Linked DNA regions of Homo sapiens. The protein of the gene in region 1 interacts with the protein of each later gene in a pairwise test. Each region holds a gene or a part of one and is shown on either strand. Other genes may lie near its edges.

What was found.
Region 2: the proteins of NDRG4 (region 1) and DGAT2L6 interact in binary tests that used the Homo sapiens proteins (3 or more experiments, as listed by UniProt).

The regions. Positions count from the first base shown.
Region 1 is NC_000016.10:58,496,050-58,503,161, forward strand, and holds the start of NDRG4 (protein NDRG4), read left to right. Parts: upstream 1-4,093; 5' UTR 4,094-4,199; coding exon 4,200-4,220; intron 4,221-4,938; coding exon of another isoform or gene 4,939-5,028; intron 5,029-7,112. UniProt on the Homo sapiens protein: Contributes to the maintenance of intracerebral BDNF levels within the normal range, which is necessary for the preservation of spatial learning and the resistance to neuronal cell death caused by ischemic stress.
Region 2 is NC_000023.11:70,180,470-70,187,494, reverse strand, and holds part of DGAT2L6 (diacylglycerol O-acyltransferase 2-like protein 6), read right to left. Parts: intron 1-7,025. UniProt on the Homo sapiens protein: Diglyceride acyltransferase that uses fatty acyl-CoA as substrate. Particularly active with oleate as a substrate. Has no wax synthase activity to produce wax esters.

The DNA.
Region 1 (7,112 bases):
CTGGAGGAGGGGGTTGGCCAAGTAAAATCTCAGAGCAGCCAGCCGGTGCCTCAACACACTGGTCCCACAGTGTGGGAGGCCGACGCCAACAGTGCTGATGCCAGCCCCAGCACACAGGCCCACGGTGTGGGGGACAGGCAGAGGGGAATCCTGGAGTCGTGGAGGAGACCCTACCATACCTCTGGGTTCCCAACTGCTGCTGCGAAGCTGCCTCTGGCCCCTGAGCCCTCTGAGCTGCAGCCCCGGAGTTGCGGGGCCCAGGGTGTGTGGGACCCCGGTTCTCAGGATCCTCTGCTTGGTAAAAGGCAGGTTGCATTAAAAGGCACCTTCCTGTCCACTCCTGTCACACCACATGGAGGCAGCATTTTTTTCGTTTTTTGTTTTAGAAAAGCAGCCACAAGAATGGATGGTCGTTATCTGGGCCAAGACCTGGCAGGGATTTTATCTCCTGCTCACTATGGCAGGCGTTGTCACTGTCCCCTGCCTCCGTGGGGGCAGCCAGTGGGGGAGGTAGTATAGCAGAGGGACTAACATGAGCCAGACAGACCTAGGTTCTGGCCCCGCCACTTCCAAGCATGTGACCTCCAGCCCAAGTCACTCCATTTGTCTACCGCATTTTCAGGGAGACAGGCAGCACGGACCTCCCGAGTGTTTCTAAGGCGATGGTGCCCATGGGCCCCTCATATGGACACTCAGCTGACCGTGACGAGTGGCCACCAGAGTGTGGAGTTAGCACCAAACTGCCTGGGTGTGGTTCCTGGCTCTGTGCCCACTAGCTGTGTGATGTTAGGCAGGTTACCAAACCTCCCTGTGCTTTATTTGCCTCATTTGTAAAGAGGGTATTAAGAGAGAAAATGAGTGCTCGCCCCAGCAGCACATATACCAAAATTGGAATGATACAGAGAAGATGAGCACGACCCCTGTACAAGAATGACCCACATATTCGTGAAGCCTTCCATACTTAAAAATATTTTCCAAAAAGAGGATAAAGGCTGGGTGTGGTGACTCATACCTGTAATCTCAGCACTTTCGGAGGCTGAGGCAGGTGCATCACTTGAGGTCAGGAGTTTGAGGCCAGCCTTGCCAATATAGTGAAACCCCATCTCTACTAAAAATACAATAATTAGCCAGGTGTGGTGGCAGGCGCTGGTAGTCCCAGCTACTTGGGAGGCTGAGGCAGGAGAATGGCTTGAACCCGGGAGGCGGAGGTTGCAGTGAGCAGAGATTGCACCATTGCACTCCAGCCTGGGCAACAGAGCAAGACCATGTCTCCAAAAAAAGAAGAAGAAGAAAAAAAAAGAGGGATAGAGAGAATGGGTAAAGCACTCCAAGAAAGCCTGGCACATGGAGGACATTTGAACATAGTGTTTGCCACTCTTGATTCTGAGACCTCAGGCCCACCCAGAGTGCTGGGGTACTAGTAGCTGCCGCTGCTTACTAGCCAAGTGAGGAAATTACCTAACCTCTCCAACTCTCAGTTTCCTCATCCCTTCTCATAGGTCCATGAGGATTATATGTATTATCCTTGCAGCTGCCTGTGCAGTAGGCACTGCTGTTTCTCCCATTTACATACGGAGGCTCAGAGAGGTTGATTGACTTCCCCAAGGTCACACAGCAAAGAAGTGGCAGAGCTATGAGTGGCACCAGGGTTTGGCTGGCAAGACCTGGGTTTGGCTGGCAAGACCTGAGCCTGCCTTGTCTGGCCACTGTAACTGCACAACCACCAGAAAAAGGGCCAACAATTTGGAGAGGCACACAGGCTGCCTCATTTCTCCCCTGCCAGGACCTGGGCAGGGGTGGGGTCAGATCTAGAGTGATTTCTGCAGTTTTTTCTGATTCTCACAGCAGCTTGGTGAGAAAGGCACACAGTCCCTGCTTTACAATTAGAAGCCTGAGACACAGAGAGGTTAAAAAAAAAATCTTGCCCAAGGTCACCCGGCTGGTAGGGGGCCAGGAAGGACTTAAACCCACGTCTGTGGGTTTGCAGACAGCTGAGCAGTCATGGAGGCTGTGGCTTGGAGTGGGCAGTGTCGCAGGTCAGCTTGTCACCTGGGTCCAAAGGTGGGGAGAGGCCACTCAGGGGTCAGAGGTTGGAGTGGGCGTAGGATTGGGTGGGGCCTTGGGGGACATGGGAGGGCATTGTGGGCAGAGGGCAGGGCTGTGCCTCAGTTTTCCAAGCCTCTTCCTGTGCCACAGTGCCTGCAGGAATGGGGAGCATGGCCAGGAGGTGACGGGCCAGGGGGACTCCCCATTCTACTTCCTGCTGCCCTGGGGAGCACAGGGCCTGTCAGTCTTCCCTAGGCCTCCAGAGTAAGAGGTGAGAGATGGAATAGGTGCCCCCAGGCAGAGGACATGACCAGCAATAGTGTACATAGCAGGTGTCGACCAGGTCAGCAGGTACCCAGAGATGAAGAGATGACCACTTTCTCCAAGGGCAGCCAGTCAGCATGCAGGGCCATCAGCATGGGCTGGGGTGAGTGGCGTGTTCCTTCTTCAGCAAGACAGGGAGAGGAAGCCGGATAGGAGGCAGCTACTGACGTTGACATGCCCACCTCCTGTAGACCCACCCGGCCCTTGTTCCTGGAGGCAACCAGTTTGGGGCTTGGCTCTCGGGTATCTGGGGAGCAGGACACTAGGGCTATCTCAGGCTCTGTGCCCTGACCCCACCCTTGCCCAGGCCCTGGCAGGAGAGAAATGGGGCAGTCTGTGTGCCTCTCCAAACTGTTGGCCCCTTTTCTGGCAGTTGTGCAGTTATCGTGGCCAGACAAGGCAGGGTCAGGTCTTGCCAGCCAAACCCTGATCCCACTCATAGGTCTGCCACTTCTTTGCTGTGTGACCTTGGGCAAGTCAGTCAACCTCTCTGAGCCTCCATATATAAATGGGAGAAACAGCAGTGCCTACTGCACAGGCAGTTGCAACGATAATACATATAATCTTCATGGATTTGGGAGCATAGGCACGCAGCAGCCCCCTTCTCTCTGTGGCTCCTGCTCTCCCAGCCTTGGGCCCCCTCCTCTGCTTCCCTCTCTGGCCTATTTCCTCTCCTCCTGTGCACTTCTTGGCCTTTCTTCTCCTCTGCTCACTCCACCTGCAGGCCTCGGGCGAGCTCGCCACCCAGATCCTTGCTGCCCAGGAGAACAGGGCACGGAGCCTGAGATAGACCTAGTGTTCTGCTCCCCAGAGACCCGAGAGCCAAGCCCCAAACTGGTTGCCTCTGGGAACGAGGGCCGGGTGGGTCTACAGGAGGTGGGCATGTCAATGTCAGCAAGCTGCCTCCTAGCCCCGCTTCCTCTCCCTGGTGGTCTGGAGCCCCTGGCAGCAGGGTGAGGGTGGGGAGGGCAGAGCTGGTGTGTGCCTGACCATACCCCTGGCCCTGCTATCTGCCCAGGGCCCCTGGCCCCCGGCCCCCAAACTCCATTTTCAGCATGTGGGGAAACCCCCTGTATCTGCGTGGGCAAGGTGGGATTTTCATCCCTGGTGGGTGGAGAAGGAGCAGCCCCTTGAAGCAGGGTGATAACCCAAGTTGCCCCAGAAAGCAGCAGCTCCCCAGGCCTCCACAAGGTTAAGCGATGGAACCTTCCTAATGGGAAGGCTGGGCGTGGGGGTCTGGTCCCCAAGATGTTGGGCTTGGGGCCCTCTCGGGCCCTCCATACTCCCCAAGGTGTGGGTCAAGGGCTCTAGCTGTCTGGGCAGTGCCCATGCACCCTGCCCTGCCCCGCATTGGTAAGCTGTGCATGTCTGTGACGACCCTGTGTGTACCTGACATGGGTGAGTCTGTACGTGTGGTCTCGGCTTTTGTATTCGGAGGATCCCGTGTGAGCTGCAGCTGTTGGCGTGTGCCTATGTGCTGGGGGCGGATGCAGGGGCTGGGGACCATCAAGGATGATGTGTGGCTGGGGTGGGAGGAGCAGTGACAGGGCTGGGGCAAGGAGGACTTCAGAAGCCAATTGGAGCCAGGCTTGTCTCCCAGCAGCCAATATGGGAGCTGGGGCTCCTGGTAAGCGAGTGGCTGCTCAGAAACCCTGCGGGGAGGAGGGGCTAGCTAGGCTGGGCCAGGATCCCTGTATAAATGGCCCAGGAGCTGTGCCCCATCACAGAGCCGACCATCTCCCACTCGAGCTGCCCCCGCCCTCTGGACCCGAGTGACTCAGGCCTTTGTTTGTCCTTCCTGGTAGAGGCGGGTTCCCTCCCTCGGCAAGATGCCGGAGTGCTGGGATGGGGTGAGTGAGGGCGCTGCGGGCATCAAGGTGGGCCGGGAGGATGGTGCATCCTTATGACCCACCGCAGGGAGGAAGTGCCCCCCTCAACCCACATCTGGTGGCAGCCCGGCCTTCAAATAGCCTCACCCTGGGGTCACTGAGACACGGCCAGAGTGCTCCAGGTTCCCTGGTGATCCTGTTTGCAGGAGTGGCTGGGGGCAGCTGCTAGTCAGAGCCCATAGCAGGGGCTGGGGGGAGCGTGTGGTTGGGGGGTGGGTGACATATCTGCAGGAAATGGAACGTGGAAGGCACTGTCTGACTTGGCTGCATTGCCCGTGTGGACCCGGGCGCTAGTGCCTGCATGTCCCTCTGACCGTGTGCCCTCTGGTGTGCGCTTGGATGGTGTCTGCCTTGGTGATGCCTGGGGCCATCAGGCCAGGGGGCGGGGGTGTCCTTGGTGAGCCCCCGAGGCTGTGTGCCCAGTGTGCGTGCCGGGTCTGTGCGTGCAGGGGCTGCCGTCCCAGTGGGCGGCCGTCTAGCTTGTTTGGATGGCTGCGCCAGTGTGATGGGAAGGACAGGCGGCCTCTTCCTTAGGAGCCACCTCACAGTTCCCAGGGCTCTGCTGCGCCAGCCGGGCAGAGGCAAGGAGGTCTGGGCCACACAGGAATGACAGCCTTTCAGGCAGGGGTCCCTGCTGGGGAGGAACGAGGAGGGGTTGCCTGCCTGCCTTATTTTGTAGGTGGGGGAAGGCAACGCTGGAGCCGTGAAGCTGGCAGGGCTAGGGGACCCCAGGTGGAGCCCAGGGCACCTCCTCTCGCCGGGGCATCAGGTACCCCGGCCCCATTCTTCCTCAGGAGGGAGAGGCAGGGGCAGACTCACCCCCACCCCCGGGCCCCACACGCCTGCCCTGCCGGTTCCGCAGACGATAGGTCACCCCGCACGCACGGAGGTGACGACGTCAGCACCTGCCCGCCCATGCAGACCCTGTCCCCTGAATTATTGATGCGGCTGACAGGCCGAACCACAGCACCACCAGCACCAACTCCCACACCGGCGCAAAGCCCGGCTCAAAGCCCCACTCCCCTCCAGTGCTCAAGGTCACAGGCGAGGGGAGACGGACCGACCGAGAGGAGCCGCCACAGCCCCCTCCCCTGCTGCCGCAGTGCTTCCCGCCTGCGCCTACCTGGAGGCGGGGCCGGCTCTGACGTCACCCAGAGCCAATGGGAGTGCTCGGCCCTGAGGGTTGGGGGCCTCAGAGTGCACCGCGCTGTGGCCCTTGTGGGGCTGCCCTTGCGCAGCGCTCCAAGGGACGGGGATGTTTGGCTTCGATCAGGCTGAACTGAGTCCTGAGCTCTCCGCAGAGGGTGAGAGAAGGCGTTAGGGAGGTTCGCAGCAGGGTTCAGCGAAGGTCACTGGACTTCGTAGGACAGGTAGCCCGGTGACGCCCAGGCCCAGCCCCAGCCCTTCCCATCCTGGGAGATGAGCCCTAGTAGAGCCTGATCACGTCACCTCAGGGGGATGGGGACAGGGGCGGCCACACCAGGGCTGGGAGAAGACAGTGGGGCCTCCTCAGCAGCAGAGAGCAGACACCCCTCACACCCCTCAGGCGGACCCGCACGCTGCGGGTCTGGGTTTGGAAGGCACCGCCCTGGGCTCTCGACGTCTGACCCCAGGAGGATAACTGTCCTTTATGCAGCAGGAGGCGCATTGCAGTTCTTTTGCAGCCCCACCCTCCAGAGCTGAGAGAACTCACAGGTGGCTGTGAAAGGGCTGCCTGGTCAGGAGCTCCCTCGGGTGGAACCTGATCTCCTGTGAACATGCAGCCTTCAGTGCACCGCCCTGGCCCCTGAGACTGGCACCTGGCAGGGCCTGCCCTCCCTACTCTGGGATTGACCTTGGGCAAGTCATTTCCCTTTCCTAGCCTCAATTTCCTCCTCTATGGCTTGGGCCTATGTGGGAAGTAAATGAGAAAACTGTGGGTCAGTGGTCAGTGGCGGGGAAGTGTTCCTGGATTTGATGGGCCCCGAGAAAGGATAGGCCTGGGATGGGAGGGGCTGTGTGGTCTGTCCCCTCTCAGCCCTGGTGTGGCCTCCTCATCCCCTGGGTGGTGCAATCAGCCGCATGGCTCACCCTAAGGCTCATTACCTGGGCTCTCCTGGAGGACAACAGGGAAATAAAAAGGGCCTGCAAGTCAAAGAGTGTTCTCCAGGGTAGAGCCTTTGGCCACCAGGTTGGTGCCAGCTTGTCACTCCACACTGGAGACACAGGCCTGGACAGTGGTCCTCTGAGACCAGACCCACTAATGCTGGCCCCTGAGCAGCTGTCTTCTGCTGTCTAAATCTCCTTTCCCATTTGGAGGCAGGAACTCAGGTTCTTTCTAAACCAAAGTGTCCTCACCTGCAAAACAGGGACTAGGGTTCCTGTCTCTTGGGTAACATGCAGGAAGCCTGGCACACAGTAGGTGCTCAGTCGCTTGATGTTTCTTTCATGTCCTTGACCCCAGCCCCACCTCCAACTCACTGGGCCACTCACGTGGTTCCCAGGGCTCACAATGATGCAGAGAGGATCGGTTTATTTAGCTCAGATGGCCCCTCTTGAAGTTTGCCCATCCGAGTGGCTAAGAATGCCCAGTTTGCAAAGGAACAGCGAGAAGGGCATTCTCCCAAGGCTCAGGGATGCCCTAGCATAACAGCCCCCTTTCTGGGGCTTTCTCCAAGTGCTAAATGCTCCACAAACATTGGCTTGTCTAGTTCCCGCAAAGTCCCTGTGAGGTGGTTCTGGATGGAGAGGCTGAGGCACAGCAGAGAAGTAACATGACATGCTCAGTCACAAGTAAGGGGTAGAACCAGGTCTTCCTGAGGAAGTAATGACCTTGAGCAGCAAAACCAAAGGTGTGAACTCAAGAGGATCCCA
Region 2 (7,025 bases), on another chromosome or scaffold:
CTGTGGCCCTTAGGATCAAGTCCAGTCTCCTAACCCTGGCTTAGAAGGGTTAGGAGATCTTGGTGATCTAGTCTCTGGCCACCACCTTGTTCTTTGCATTCCACCATGCTATTTTTTTCAGCTCCTTCAAGTGCTCTCTAGCTTCAGGGCTTCTCTGCCTGCGGTCCCCTTTGCCTGGAAAACTCTCTCTTCAGCTCTGTGTCTGGCTAGTTCCTATTCATCTTTCAGGCCTCAAGATAAATGTCATAGGTTCAATATTTTTAGGCCATCTTTGACTTCTTTCCCTTTCCAAACAAACAAACAAACAAACAAACAAACAAACAAAAAACTTCTCCTATCCGTCTTCCTGCCTCTGTCCCCATTGCTACTGCTATGGTCCAGGACTTGATTTTTTTCTAGTCTGGACTGCAGCCTTTTGTCTGCCCTTCAGCTATGGGTTTCTTCCCCTCCAATCCATTTCCCACACCTCTGCCAGAAATTTTTAAAAAGCACAATCACATAATGTTGTTTGCTTCCTCCAAAACCATCAATATTTTCCAACTGCTGACAGAATAAAGTCTGAACACATTGGCTTGGTATTCAAGGCCCTCACTGGCCTAGCCCCACGTGTCTTCCTAGCCTCATCTCTCAGTAGCCGTACTCACATTCCTTATGCTGCAGCCTAGTATTTCTCAAAGTGTTTCGTAGCCTAGTGTTCCCATGCCCTGTAGGGACATTAGATGATCCAAGGTGGTGTATGGATAAAAAGTTATTTTAATGCATAGAGAATAAAAGCAAATTCATGGTAGCGATATAAAATTTCCTGTTAAAATACATTAATTTAGGCTACAGAGATGACTTAATTTGAAGGAAAAGTATGTTAAGTAATAATAGCATAGGTGGTACACAGCTGTGGAAAGAGCCAGAAGATGGGACACAAATGGCTAAAGTATGGGAAACGGGCCCGACCACCTTTGTCTACTTCCCATTCCCTCAACTCACCATGTAATTCACATTTCTGTGCCTTTGATGATACTGTTCCCTTATTTTTATTACTCTCTTTCCAACTTTCTGCTTATCAAAATTCTCTCAGGCTTTATGGTTTAGCTCAAATGACACTTCCTTGTGATATCTTTGCTCATCTCCCGGTCAGAATTGAGGACTCCCTCTTCTGCACACTCCCAAGACATTACTCGTGCTTCTTTCTGGTTCTGGTTCATTTTGTTTGATGGTGTAATTAGTACCTCATATGTCTGTCTCTCTCCCTATCAGACAGTAAGTTTGGCCTTTAGCACAGTGCCAAACACAGAGAGATAGCTTATGATAAATGTTCATTACATTGAATTATAGTAAAGGAAGAAGTTCAATTTCACAATTCTCCAAGTTGCAGGTGAAAGTTAATAGGAAGAGAAACCGTATTCCAAACAAGGAAAGGCTATCTGAAGTTATAAGGTGTGCATGTGTGTGTAAGGATATAGGCAACGAGTTATTTCCAGTGTAAGGTGAAAACCTATAATTCTTATGGGTGAAAACATTATGTTTCATGTTTCGGGGCAATGACCTAAATCTGAATGTTGGCAATGCTTGCCTAATCTAGTCAGTTGGCTCAATGCCTTCAGAAATTTAAAAAAAAAAAACAAAAAAACAAAACAAAAAAAAAACAAAAGTAGTTTGTCAAAGAGGAATTTCTGTGGCTTTGTGATTACTTGTTGGATCCAAATAAACTATAAATATAAGAACTTGTAGGAGTGACAGGTAATTTAATAATTCAGTAAACATTGATGAGCCTACCTCATATGAAATCTCTATGTTAAAAGCCATGGGGACAGGGTTGGGAACTGGAAAGGGGAGGGTGAAAGGAGTAAATATGGAAATGATGAAAATAATGCAAGCATGGTCCTTGATACCATGTATTGACCATTTGTTGTGAAACAGCACTCTGTTCAGCACTTAATGTATATTATCTCATTTAATGTTCTTGCAGTCCTCATAGGTGGATAATTTTATTATCTCGTTTTACAGATGAAGAAACTAAGAATCAGAGAGATCATGTATCTTTACTCCAAGCTGTAGGAAAAAAAGTAGATAGCATTCATTATGTGCCAATAACTATTTTAAGTACCTCATGTGTATTAACTCACATTAATACGTGTGGAAAACAAAATTCCTGTCTTGGAGAAGCTCTGGGTTTCTTGTGAAAGATAAGGTTCAAAGTTGAATTTTGGAGGAAAGGTAGGATTTTTGTCAGATGGATTGGTAGAGGAAGGGTCCTCCATGCACAAAGAAGAGCCTGAACAAAGTCCAGGAGATGGGAGAGTCCAAGGCCTGGGAGTAACATCATTACCTGCAAAAACACAGGCAGCCTAAGGAAGCCGTGGTACAGGAGATGAAGCTGGGAAGGAAACTGGAGAGATTAGGCCTGATGCTGAAGGAAATGAATAGCCAGTAAAGGTTAGTAAGCAGAGAGCAGAAGAGTAGCATGATCGTGTCTGTTTCAGGAAGATAATCTGGAATAACTGTGAGAGCAAGAGAAACTATAGGCAAAGAGATCAGCTAAGAGTTTTGGCATTCAGATGAAAGCCAATGGGAACCTGAAATAGGCTACTATTTCACATACCAATTTGAAAGTCACCAAGGAGGTAGAATTTTTCAGCCCAACGCAGCTGAGTTGATGCTGGGGTGATGGAAGGGGATTAATGAAAGATGCCGTGATGGGGTATGTGGGAATGCTGGGAATGCATCAAAGTCTAGGCCAGGCATGGTGGCTCACTCCTGTAATGCCAGCATTTTGGGAGGCCAGGGCAGGAGGATCCCTGGAGTCCAGGAGTTCGAGACCAACCCAGGCAACATAGTGAGACCTCGTCTCTACAAAAAAATTTAAAAATTAACCAAGCATGGTGGTGCACACTTGTAGTCCCAGATACTCGGGAAGCTGAGGCAAGAGGATCGCTTGAACCCAGGAGTTCGAGGCTGCAGTGAGTTATGATCATACCACTGCACTCCAGCCTCAGCCTGGGAGACAGAGCAAGACTCTGTCTCCAAAAAAAAAGAAAGAAAATAAGAAAAAGAAAAAGCCTGTATCTGCTTTAGTTATCATTATTCTTCCTGAAGATGTAATAAAGTCAGTGTCTAAGGTGTCTGCCTCAGAGGAGTGGTTGTCACTCCTCTCTTGATCAAGTGGCAAGATTGACAAGGTTGGTAGTATCTTATCAGGTGTGGTGGTTGGGCTCCAAGTAGTCAATTTCGGTAGTTAAAAGGAAGAAAATTAACATGTATTGAGGATTTTCTCACCTCAAAGATCTCTGGAACAGTCTTGAGAGGCAGGTACTATGCTGTTTCTGTTATGGTACAGGGTGAATGACTTACTTGCTCAAGGTCACATAGAAAATAACAGAGACTCACTTGCATAAGGTCTCATAGCAAGTAAGTGACAGAACTGGTCTGAAGACTATGTTCTATTTTTATTTATTTATTTTGAGACAGGATCTCACTCTGTCACCCAGGCTAGAGTGCAATAGCGTGATCACAACTCACTCTAACCTTTACCTCTTAGGCTCAAAGGAGCCCCCCATTTCAGCCTGCACAATAGCTAGGACCACAGGCATGCACCACCATGCCTGGCTAATTTTTTGATTTTTTTTTTTTTCTGTAGAGATGGAGTCTCACTGTGTTGCCCAAGCTGGTCTCAAACTCCCAGGCTCGAGCGATCCTCCCACCTCGGCCTCCAAAAATATTTGGATTACAGGCATGAGCCACTGCACCCAACCTGTTCTATTTTTTACAGTACCAGAAACCAGAGAAAGAGGGCAGGCCCACACACCCAAAAAGGATGTCCAAGGGAGAGAAAAAAGAATAAGAGTGAATTTAAAGATTTCTGCTGAGGAAGAAGAAATCTGGAAGACCTTCAAGTTAGTGTCAAGCTTGGTCTTGCATGAAATATAATAATGATAAGAAAGGGCTCCTGTTCTCATGGAGCTTATTGGGTAGAGGGCACCAAAGATATAATGGCTGCTACCCAGCCATTCTTACAAAATGCTCTAGACTTTCAGAGGCGATATAGTCTTGGGTTGTCTGGAAAATGTTACAGAGAAGATATGACTTGAGTAATATCTAAAAGGAGGCGCTGTCCCTGGATAGTCCAGGAAGAGCTATCATGCCATCTTTCCACTGGCAGGAGTAGTGGGAGTAGTGGGAGCAGAGGTGAAGGAGTGGGAGAGTACATTTCCTGTTTGTTTAGTGAATAGATTGCCTGGAACGCAAGGCAATCACGTAGGGAAGAGTAGGAGGACGAGCTGGCAAGGGGTTAACACCAGAGAATGGAGGAGGGCTTTGAATGCCCAGTCTGATACCTTTATACATCATCACTTAGGCAATGGGAAACCACTGACTATTTTTGAGCAGGAGAGGGATGTAATCAAATATGCTTTTGAGGCGGTGGCTCACGCCTGTAATCCCAGCACTTTGGGAGGCTGAGGAGGGCAGATCACCTGAGGTCAGGAGTTCGAGACCAGCCTGGCCAACGTGGCAAAACCCTGTCTCTACTAAAAATACAAAAGAAATGGTCGGGCGCGGTGGCTCACGCCTGTAATCCCAGCACTTTGGGAGGCCGAGGCAGGCGGATCACAAGGTCAGGAGATCGAGACCATCCTGGCTAACACGGTGAAACCCCATCTGTACTAAAAAAATACAAAAAACTTAGCCGGGCATCGTGGCGGGCACCTGTAGTCCCAGCTACTCGGGAGGCTGAGGCAGGAGAATGGCGTGAGCCCGGGAGGCGGAGCTTGCAGTGAGCCGAGATCGCGCCACTGCACTCCAGCCTGGGCGACAGAGCGAGACTCTGCCTCAAAACAAAAACAAACAAACAAAAAATTAGCTGGGTGTGGTGGCACACACCTGTAATCCCAGCTACTCAGGAGGCTGAGGCAGGTGAATTGCTTGAACCCGGGAGGCAGAGGTTGCAGTGAGCCGAGATTGCCCCACTGCACTCCAGCCTGGGCAACAGAGTAAGACTCCGTCTCAAAAAAAAAAAAAAAAAAAAAAAAAAAAGATGCTTTTGAAAGACCTCCAGAAGTAAGCACTGGAATAGATTGGAGAGGGTGGAGATCAGAGGTTAGACGATCAGGAAAAAGGATATTGAGATAGTTTAGGGGGATGGTGATACAAGCCCGGAAGAGATGAGGGAAAGCCATCCTCTGAATGAAAGCTGGCTCTCAGAGGGGCTGTCAGAGCCACAGCCTAATTTTAAGGACATGAATATTTGTGTTCCAAATCTCCTCCAAGCCATTTTCTCGTTCCTCTCTTCTTGCTTCCTCCTTCCTTCTTGTCCCTCTGCCTTTCCTCCATTTTCTCTATTTCCTCCCCATTACTTCCAGTAATGCTCAGTAATCAGCTATGATTCTGAACATCATTTGGGAAGGAGGGGAAGCACTGAGGGAGGCTCTGAGCAAGATAGAAGGAAGGAAGGAAAGAAGGTGAGAAAGAAAAGGAGGAAGGAAAGATAGGCGAGAAAGAAGAGGAGGAAGGAAGGGAGGAAGGCAGACATTTCTGTAGGAGCATTTCCCATGGACCAGACTGAGAGGATGGGGATACTGAGACTTAGAGGGATTGCAGTACTTGCTTGGAGTCACATAGCTAATTGCCATCTAAGTCTGATGAACTCCAGAACTCATGTCCTGTTTGCCATTCCACGGTGATTCCCTTTCCTGTCTCCCCTGATCTGTTCAACTTATGTAATAATTTCTTATTCCGATACCCTAATATCACTTTGTCATGGCTCTTTCACTCACCACAGTCTGTCTTACATTATAGTGATCTGTGTATATGTCCAGCACTGGCACATAAAATGCGGACAATGATTGAATGAATGATTGGTTTATCTCTGTTACTAGATAGTAAGGAGGCTGCAAGGATCTCACAGCAAGGACAGCCCAAGATCATATCATTAGTATTTAATCTATAACTGTTGGATTGAACATATTTGAATGTCTTAGGCACCTCTGTGGGCATCACGCCCTGTTGGACACTGAAGCTACCTTGGTAACCTTCAAGACCCAGGATTTGTGTTGTAATTTCTAGCATAATCACTAAAAGAACAGAAACAAGATGTATAGCACCTAAACTAGAAGAGAAAGACAAATGGAATGGTAAAGCTAATCAGTCTAAAAGAAGTCAAATCAAATGGCCAACAGGCACATGAAAAGATGCTCAACATTACTGATCATCAGGGAAATGTAAAGCAAAACCACAATGAGATCATCTCACACCCATTGGGATGGCTATTATTTAAAAAACAGAAAATAAGAAGTATAGGTGAGGATGTGGAGAAATTGAAACTCTTGTGCACTGTTGGTGGGAATGTGAAATTGTGCAGCCATTGAGGAAAACAGGATGGCAATTCCAAAAAATAAAAATAAAAACAGAATTACTGTGTGATCCAGGAATTCCATTTCTGGGTATATATCAAAAGCATTGAAAGCAGAGTCTCAAAGAGATGTTTGTACATCTATGTTCATAGCAACATTACTCACAATAGCCAAAACGTCAAGGCAACCTAAATGTCCATCAATAGATGAATGGAAAACAATATGTGGCATATCCACACAAGGCACCGTATAACTCAGCCTTTCAAAGGAAATAAATTCTGACCCATGATACCACATGGTGAGCCTTAAAGCCATTATACTAAGTAAAATAAGCCAATCATGAAAGGACAAACACTGGAATAATAATTCCAATTATATGAGGTACCTAGAATAGGCAAATTCATAGAGACAGAAAGCAGAATGGTGGTTGCCAGGGGCTGGAGGGAGGGGGAATTAGGGAGTTATTGTGTAATGGATACAGAGTTTCAGTTTGGGAAGATAAAATTCTGGAGATGGATGGTGGCCATGCATTGTGAATGTACTTAATGACATGTACTTAGAGCATACTTAGAAATGGTTAAAACGGTAAATTTTATGTTCTAGGTATTGTACCACAATAAAAATAACTTTTAAAAATGAAGGTGAAAAAAAATCCCGTTTATTCTTTATTTTTATTTTTATTTT